Linked DNA regions of Homo sapiens: region 2 is reported to be linked to region 1. The links are microRNA targets in miRTarBase. Many come from high-throughput screens and were not tested one by one. Region 1 holds a microRNA gene; the other region holds the end of a gene's coding sequence.

Region 1 (4,382 bases):
CCTATGCACAAGAGAGGACTGACATGCTGGGACCAGGGCCCCAGCTTGGGGCTTCCTGGGCTCTAGATGGCCAGGAGAAGAGTTTCTCTTCTCAAAAGGCAGAAAAGGTGGGCACAGGAAGAACCTCACACTAGGTTAGAGGTTGAGATTCAAGTTGTCAGTGGGGTTCCTAGAGCTGAAGCCTTGTCTGTGCAAAAGTTCTTCCCTTCCCGCCACAGGGAGTCCACTGTGACAAACCCGGAGCAACAGCTCCAAGGCAGGGGGCAAAGGGGGCTTGGATCCTGGACCGAGGCCTGCTAGGAGGAGCACCATTCGGGAGGGTGGAGGCAGGCGCCTCCAGGCTGTGGTGGCAGCTGGAGAGAGAAGGCTGGGCCCGAGCTGAGGCTGTAGGATGAGCGTCTCTGGGGAGCTGCAGAGAAACAAAGGCCAAGTATATGGTCATGTCAGCATCAAAACCGCAGCCACCAGCCCCTTCCAACTCTACAGCCTCCCAAAAACTACACTCTCACCACGCCCCCACCCATGTATTCCGACCAGTCCCTACCTCAACTTCTCTCCTTAGCCCTCAAGGACTTTAGATTCTACTCTTCCCCCGTCCCAGCTCCTCTCGACCCAGGCCCTCCTCAACCAGCGCCTTCGAGACTTTCCTCTGCACCCCTAGGCTCTCCTCCATCTCCTGTGGTCTCCCGCTCGTCCCACTCCACCCCAGCCCGGCTTTGCGATTCACCTTGTAACCCCGAGCCCCACCCCACCTTCTCTGTCCAACCCGAGACATCTAAGCCTCCCGTCTCCAATTCCACACTCTTCCGCAATCCCAAGGACCCTACTCCCGTCCATTCTACCCAGCCATGCGCAAAAGCCCCCCGCACAGCCTTACCTCAGTTTACCTTCCCGTCCGCGGAGCTTCTATGCTGCAAACAATCTCCCCCCCTCCCTCCCCGCAACAAGCCGATCCAACCAAAAACGACCAGGCAGACCAGAAGCGGAAATACATCATCGGTGAACAACGCTCTCCCTCCCACGCTCTCTCTCAAGCCGGGCCTCCTCGGGAGGCCTCACACTCCCCCGCCCTGCCTTCAGTTTCCGTACAAAATGGTGCCCCACGTTGCTCAGGCTAGCCGTAGGTTGCCTCCAGACCATACTCCACCAAGGCTGAATGAAAGAAAAACATGAGAATGTGGTGCTGAAGAAAATTAGGGCGCGGGACGGAAATCGAGAGTAACTGGTGAGAAGAGGAATACTAGATATAAAACGGAGATAATAGCCTCAGAGTGAGTAGTGCCATCTTGCTTTACGGAGCTGCGGCGGCGGCTGCCGGAAAGCCACTTCCGGCCTGCTCCACGGAGGCGGGCGCGACGCCGAAAGTGAGCTGGTAAACTTCCGGCAGTGGCTCCGGGGGCAACTCGAGTCCGGACGCTGGCGGGCTTCGCGGGCGAAGGCAAAGTCGATTTCCAAAAGTGACTTTCCTCACTCCCGTGAAGTCGGCGGAACCCTCCACTAACGGCGTCTGAGCGGACGGCTCCGATGTGTAAATCCCACTCCTCGAGGCCTCTGGACCTTGCACCTTGAACGACGTTTTGGTGGGGTCACCAATTGCTCCGTGAATACTAACCAGGAACTTAGTCAACATTAACTCAGTTAATTCACTCGTGCACCCAGGGTCAGATGCCCTCGATGAGCAGGAGTTTGTTACATGGCATTGTGTATCGTTACCTAGGTCCCTGAGCGAGCGCCTGCTTGTCACCTCTAGGTGTCGCTTGGTGAGGGGAGGGCCTAGGCCTAAGGGGAAGGGCTTCATTCAGGGTTGGATGTTTTGTTTTTACAAAAGGCGTAACTTCCTCAGAGTCAACTCAAAACTTTGCCCTGCAGATGGAAAAGGCAAATGGGCTGAATTCCCCTCCTTTTTGGATCCTGTCAAAGACAACCCAGCTAGACATTGAAGCAGTGAAAAAGACTTTTTTCAGTAACTACTTACAGAAAGGAAAAGAACTGACCTCTGTTCCGATTTGTACAGAAGTGACTGGGCATTTCAAAGGGAGAATGAAGGAAGGAAGGTGATCAGGGCTCAATAGTGTTGGAGAAGTGAAAAATTACAGATTTGATTGGCATAGATGCGATTCGGCCAGATGTGTCTGCTAGCTAGCAGCTATAGAAGTTAGAGTGCTTTTTTATGTATTTATTTATTTTGAGACGGAGTTTAACTCTTGTTGCCCAGGCTGGAGTGCAATGGCGCGATCTTGGCTCACTGCAACCTCCGCCCCACCCCCACCCCCGAGTACAAGAGATTCTCCTGCCTCAGCCTCCCGAGTAGCTGGGATTACAGGTGCATGCCAACACATCTGGCTAATTTTTCTATTTTTAGTAGAGACGGGGTTTCGCCACGTTGGCCAGGCTGGTCTCGAACTCCTGACCTCAGGTGATCCACCCGCCTGGGCATCCCAAAGTGCTAGGATTAGAGGCGTGAGCCACCACGCCCAGCCTAGCTTGCTATTCTTGCACTGAGATTGGGAGGTAGAGGCTCTGCCCTTCTTGACGATCAATTTCAAAGGAATGGCTCTCAGGTCCTTTAGAAGGACCTCTTGAGTTGTAGCAGACGCATAAACACCTTAAAGAGAAGAAGGAAGGATTCATAATGGTAAGCCCTTAATAAACGCCCTGAGAAAGGGAGGTCAGGAGCCTATCATCAGGTGTTGGCTAGAACAAATAGTAAATTCTCCTGGTAGCATTGAGCTTTCTCAGGCAGGCATTTTCATGGGGGAGCTGGGGTTCTCCTAGGGACATGATCTGACACTGCTAGAAGGCATGCTAAAGTTTGTCTCTTAGTAACTCAGAGGTTTGGATGGAGTCATGTGCCAAGAGTTCTACAGTTCTCAGTCCATTTCTTCTATCCCTTCATCCCATGAATAACGATTTTTTTAAATTGAGCAGAGCAAAATATATTCCTTTAAAAGAGGTGATTGAAAACAGATTTTTCCATTAAATTGGAGGTTTTGTTTTTAAAATTACAAAAGTGATTTTTCTAATTTCAATAAGTCAGCAGGACCTTGAGTAACATTGTCTAAGTGGACAGCTTTGATGGATAATAATGCCTCAGTCTTCTACCACAGTCCTTTTTATTATTAAGGTGCCATACAAAAACCATAAAAATTAAATATAAGGTGATAAACATGATTTATTTGTTGTCTACCAGTCACTTTACTTTTGTAGAACTAGAATTTCACTGTAATAACCTCATTTTACCCAGGATGTTCTGTCTACCCTAGCCTGAATTATCTAACCTTTCTTATTCAGCACTGCTCCAATACCTGTCATTCTTATACCCCATCCCATAGCTCCTTTTCTCTGTGTAATGCTTAGCAATCACAAACTGCTGCTACGTGTCACAGATCTTTGGTGGGAAAACATTATGAATACATATAATGGCCAGACCCCTAGATCACATCCTGAGATTTAGCAGCTCCTTTAAAGTCTCCACTGGCCTCTTCCAAGGTTAACTCTCACCCACTGAGACCACATGTGAATCTATCATGTATAGATTGTGATATAATCCCACAATAGTTTTTCTGCTGGGTTTGGATAATGTTTTGGGTAGGAAGAGATTGGGCGATGCTGTGCATTGATTTAACCTGAACTTGTTTATTGAAGCCAGCACAAACATGATGAATTAAAACTTTTGTCTACAGCAGCACTGTCTGAAAGACCTTTCTGCAAAGAAGGAAATGTTAATCAGCTCTGCACAGTATGGTAGTCTGTAGACACATGTGGCCATTTAGAACTTGAAATGGAGCTACTGTGATTAAGAAGTTGTATTTTTTATTTTAATTTAAATAGCTCTGTGTAGCTAGTTTCTCCTTTCCTGGACAGCACGTTTTTAGAACCTGCCTTTTCTATATAATTTCTCCAGAATACATACTGAACTTTCACATCTTCAATACAAAACAAACAGCCTCTCAGTCTCCACTATCATTTGTCTTTTCTCCACTTCCTCCCTTCCCATTCACCCCTACAGTCTGGCTCCGGATGCTGCCAATTCATAGGAATTACAAAGATAAGGTCATCCATGCTCTCAATATTGCCACATCACTGACATCTGACACTGGGTTATTTCTCTCTTTTTTCTTATCATTTAGCTTCTGAGTCACCCTGGTACTGGGTTTCCTCTTCTCTGGCTTGTTGATTCATTCCTTTATGCAATATGTCTTTACGGAGTGCCTATTACGTGCCAGAATTTCAGGCAATGATGAGAAAAAGGACACTATCTCACTTCCCATGTAGGTGATAGTCTATGGTGCTCATTTTATTTTATTTTTGTTTATTTATTTATTTACTTATTTTTACTTATTTATTTGAGATGGAGTCTCACGCTGTCGCCAGGCTGGAGT
Region 2 (4,382 bases), not on the chromosome of region 1:
TCGAGACTTAACCAGGTGGTGGGGGGGTCTAGAGTGGGGGCCCAGGATGGGGACCGCCCTTCACCGCACACACACGCACACACACACACAGATATATTTGTGGAGCCTTATATTATACATCTTATATATAGAAAATATATATATTTATACTATACACAGGCAGTAACGCTGCGGGAGGGGCCGGGGCACCGACAAGGGCTGTGCGCACCAGGACATGGGGAGTGTCAGGTCAAGTGCATCGCTGGGAGGCAGCCGGCCCAGTCCCTTCTCCCATAAACTCCTGGGAGGGGCATTCCCCCTTTCGTGCTCCTTAGAGAATCAAAGGGGTCTTGGGCCAAGGTTAGGGGTCTCCCAGGGCTAACAGGCAGGGTGTCTCAGTTACATGGGGAAACCTGGGATCCCCGAGGCTTTGAAGATCAAGAATCACCAGGGAAGGATGGAGTAGGGAACTAACGTCAGTCCCCTGGGAATTAGCCCCTCAACTGCGACACCCCCAGGTGGATAGGAGCCGTGCAGGCAGGACAGTCTGTGACTGCCCAGGATGAGCCAACTCAGAAGGCAGAAGACCTGACTCCTGAACCTCTCCCTCTGTGCTTGACCTTGGACAAGTCGCTGTCTCCCTACCCCAGACTCTGCCGACTCTAAGCGTCCTTGCGACTCTACACTTATGTGAAACCTTTTTTCCTGGGCCCTCTCTTGTGCTTGATGGGGAGGAGGGAGCCACCCTGCAGGGTCCAGCTGCAGGAGGGCCCTTCTCCAAGGAAAGCTTTGGGAGCAAGGGAGAAGTAGGGGAGGGCAGCTGGGAGGAAAAGGGATACCGGACAGAGTTGGGCCTGGGGTTCCCCAGGGGCTGTCCTCTGCCAACAGAAGGAGCGAGTTTCCCCATGAACCTTCCAGGGCAGAGTCAGGAGCCCTGGGTCCCATCCAAATCTCGCCCTCCATCTCTCACCCTCTCTCATCTCCATCCTGGGCAGGTCCCTGCCAGAGCCCAGCCTGATGGGGAAGATCATGCCTGGAAGGGCTTCTGGGCTGAACCCGGGAAGAGTGAGGGATTCTTCGTGAGATGACTCAGCACCCCCCATTCCTGGCAGGAGTCTTGACAGCTTTCCCTGCCTAGGGTGGCAGGCAGGGCCTGTCACAAACACCCAAGATGGAGTTAAGCTTACCTGGTACCCTGCCCTCCGGCTGAGGATCACCAGCAGCTGGCTGGCACCCGAGGAGAAACAGATGGGCAGTACCCTGAGGTCTCCTAGTGCCCATCAGCAGGAGAGGCTTTTGGTGGACAGTGGGTGAGGGTCAGAACATCTCACAGCCTCTTGTGGTGGGCACAGAACTTCACTCTGCCATAAACACTCCTGCCCTCACTCACGCCCTCACCTTTGGCCTGGTACAGGTTTCACTCTTCAGGCCAACAGATAACCTGCCCCCATGCTGGTCCCATGTGGGCCACCTGGCGGCGGGGGACTGTGGACAGAGCCCCTTCTCCGGATTGGAAAATGAAGTCAGCAACAACCAGCTGTCACACAGCTGGCTGGGGTCCTCTCCATCACTGCTGTCCTTTGGGAGGACTTGGACACACCTGAGTTTAGATCCGTGTTCCACTGCCAACTCGCCTATGCTTGCCGAGCCTCAGTTTCCCTTCTGTTAAATGGGGATAATGGTGCTACTTCTCTGCTTAGGACTTCCTCCTCTTTCCCTTAACTCTGGCCCAGCTTTGGGGCCATCGAAGCAGGGACCACCCATGCCCTTGGTATCTCCAGCACAGGGGCCGGGTAACTGCTGAGTGAGTAAGCAGGTGAGGGATCGCCTGCCTCTTAGGATTCTTAGATGGGGGATGGGGGGATGGTGGTGAAAACACCCAGCACTGGGCCCGTCCACCACCTGCTCTGCTCTGCTCCCTGAAGGACAGGCCAGTGGACACTGGGTGGACAGGGGGATGGGCCCCCAGCGCTCTCCCATACCTCCCTGTCCCTTATGGCTCAGTGAAGAGCCCACCTTGTGCAAGAATCGACCTGCCCCCACTCAGAAGAGATTATGACCTCCTCAGGCCCCACGGCCCTCTTTGGGCCTTTGGGTCACCTGCCACACTCTCCCCTACAGCCCATGGTCTTCCCTGGGCCTCCCATGCCTCAGGGGCTCTTGCCTGTGTCATCCTGGGGGCAGTGTCTCTCCACGGCCACAGCCCAGGAGCCGACCTGGCTGATTCCAAAGCCCTGTCCTTGCCGCTCTGCCTCCCATAGGGAGGCTGGCTCCACAGTGGGCCTTCTGGAAGGCCAAGGAAACACCTCTCATGCGCTTGGCTGCTGCAGCCCCCGAACCCTGACTGACCCCAGATGAGAGGAGAGGTGACATAGTGTCCCAGATCAGTTCTGTTTCCTGGGAGGTCACAAGGGCAGGGAATCGAGGCACCTGCTGGGCAGCTGGGGCCAAGAAACCCAGGCGTCAGGGCCAGCTTTGCCACTCACTCACCGTGACCTCGGGCCAGTCACACCCTCATCTGTGCCTTGTTGTCCACCCAGCCCTAGGTAAGGGCTTAGTGACCCCTCCTAGAGGCAAGGACAGTGATCAGTCCTTTGAGAGACCACGAAGGGGTTTGCTGGAGCCCCCTGGAACAAGCGTCTGTGGGACACGCAGAGCACAGAGCAGCACCCGGGGTGAGCCCTCTTGGAGGAGGCCAAGGGCCAGGGGTAGGACCAGGGGGATGTGGGTGGAGGGACCCGGAGGTGGGGCTGTCCCCAGGGGAGGAGGAACAGCTGGGGCAGAACAGGCCCTTGGCATGCAGCAGAATCAGGGTGTCTCAAGGGGCTGAGGGCCCCAAGGCCTCCCAGAATGACAGTAACACTGAGCAGGGAAGCCCCAAGCGTGGGGATGGTAGGAGGTGGGTGGCCAGGGAAGAGCACGTGGTCTGCAGTCGGGCAGCCTGGGCTTGGCCCCACCTCTATCACTAGCTGCCTGAGTGATTCTGGGCAAGTAATCTTGACCTCTCTAGACCTCAGTTTCCTCAACCATAAAATGGAGACGGCCCTGACACTCTTAGCAGGACTGCCAGAGCAGGGTGACAGCCCCCAGTGTCCTGTGGGTGTTTACACTCACCCTATGACCAAGCCACGGTGTAGCCACACTTCCCAGCATTATCTGGATCTGTCTTTCCCACCATTCTGGCCTCTGGTACCACCAGGGCTTCCTCCACAGCTCATCGCTCCCCTTTCCAGTGGCCATTTCTGCCAATGTCACCACCCATGCCCAGCACAGGCCGGATGCCCAGTAGGCGCTCAAGGAATGCTTGATGACACAATGTATGAATGCAAATACCCCTGGCCCCCACCCTCTAGGCCCCTGCGGGGCACATGCCCTGGGATATACTTGCACATACGTAGACAGTCCCCAACACTGGACTGCCCCACCCCTGCCCCGAGCTACCCTGGACCTCAGTGGGACAAGGCAGAGGCTGATGAGGCGCTGGGCAGGGCAGCCTGGGCAGGAGCAGGGGCTGGGTGTGGAGAGAGGGGACAGATGGGGAGGGGCGGGGGCAGGCGGTCACTGTGGCTCAGTAGCCCTGCGACTGGTAGCCCTGGGGCTCGGTGTCGAAGGTGTTGGCCGGCTGCTGGTAGGTGCCGCCCATACCGGCGGGATCCGGCCCAGTGGGCTCCACGTAGGGCGCGTAAGGCATGCTGGAGTCCTGGCTGGGGTCCATGTAGTCCTGGGAGAAGAGGGCCGAGTCGGCGCCAATCTGGTACCGCTGGAAGGCCAGCACAGCCTGGCCCGCCTGGGGACAAAGGCCGGCGAGGACAAGGACAGGCGGGAGGGGGTGGTTAGGGGAGAGACAGACAAGAGCACTGGGTTAGTGGTGGTTAGTTCACAGGACACAGGCAGGAGAGGGTTAAAGATCCTCAAAGCACCAAACATGAGACCAAGCTTGGCTGTGGAGAAGGAAGGCTGTTCTCGCAGCCACCCCCGGAAATGCCCAGAACCATATCATCCAGCCAGAAAGTACCCCAGAAATCACCTGCCCCTGTCTCCCAATCCCAGAGGTCAGTCTGGGCTACCAAAAGTTCTAGATCTCCATTATGGAGTGTTAAGATGGCTCAAAGGCTCACAACAGCCTTCTTAAAAAAAGCTTCTCAGCGGGACAAAGGACTGTTAGCATCTCCTAAGAGTCATTCTTTTGTCTCTCTTGCAGCTAGGCATGGCCATGTGACTACGTTTTGGCCAATGGGGTACCCTCATGTTCTCTGTCCCACCCTCTGACCTGATGCCTGGAACACAGATGTGATGGCTGGAGCTCTAATTGCCAAAAGGGACCACAAAGACCATGAGCCAAGTCTGTAGGAATGAAAGATGCCTGGGGGCCATGCACCGCGGCTCATGCCTGTAATCCCACA

Evidence for each region. The annotated mature microRNA hsa-miR-3124-3p reads ACUUUCCUCACUCCCGUGAAGU and lies in region 1 at 1,461-1,482, shown strand. An mRNA with a match to its seed (bases 2 to 7 or 8) in the 3' UTR can be bound and repressed. Matches are read on the target gene's strand: a 7mer-m8 pairs with bases 2 to 8, a 7mer-A1 pairs with bases 2 to 7 and ends in A, and an 8mer does both.
Region 2: the mRNA of SYNGR1 is a reported target of hsa-miR-3124-3p. Seed matches in the 3' UTR shown: 7mer-A1 at 3,145-3,151 and 7mer-A1 at 1,690-1,696.

Annotation. Positions count from the first base shown.
Region 1 is chr1:248,824,958-248,829,339 of GRCh38, forward strand. It overlaps MIR3124 (microRNA 3124), which reads left to right and starts at 1,420; the gene lies at 1,420-1,486. SH3BP5L (SH3 binding domain protein 5 like) reads right to left here and starts at 958. Exons shown (of 7, transcript NM_030645.3): 1 at 878-958; 2 at 1-409. RefSeq lists enhancers at 630-689, 752-1,303, 1,060-1,319, 1,304-1,854, 1,430-1,479 and 1 more.
Region 2 is chr22:39,381,080-39,385,461 of GRCh38, reverse strand. It overlaps SYNGR1 (synaptogyrin 1), which reads right to left. Exons shown (of 4, transcript NM_004711.5): 4 at 1-3,766. The coding sequence ends at 3,548. Among named protein-coding and RNA genes, the nearest start is that of TAB1, 17 kb to the left of the region's middle. RefSeq lists a silencer at 384-678.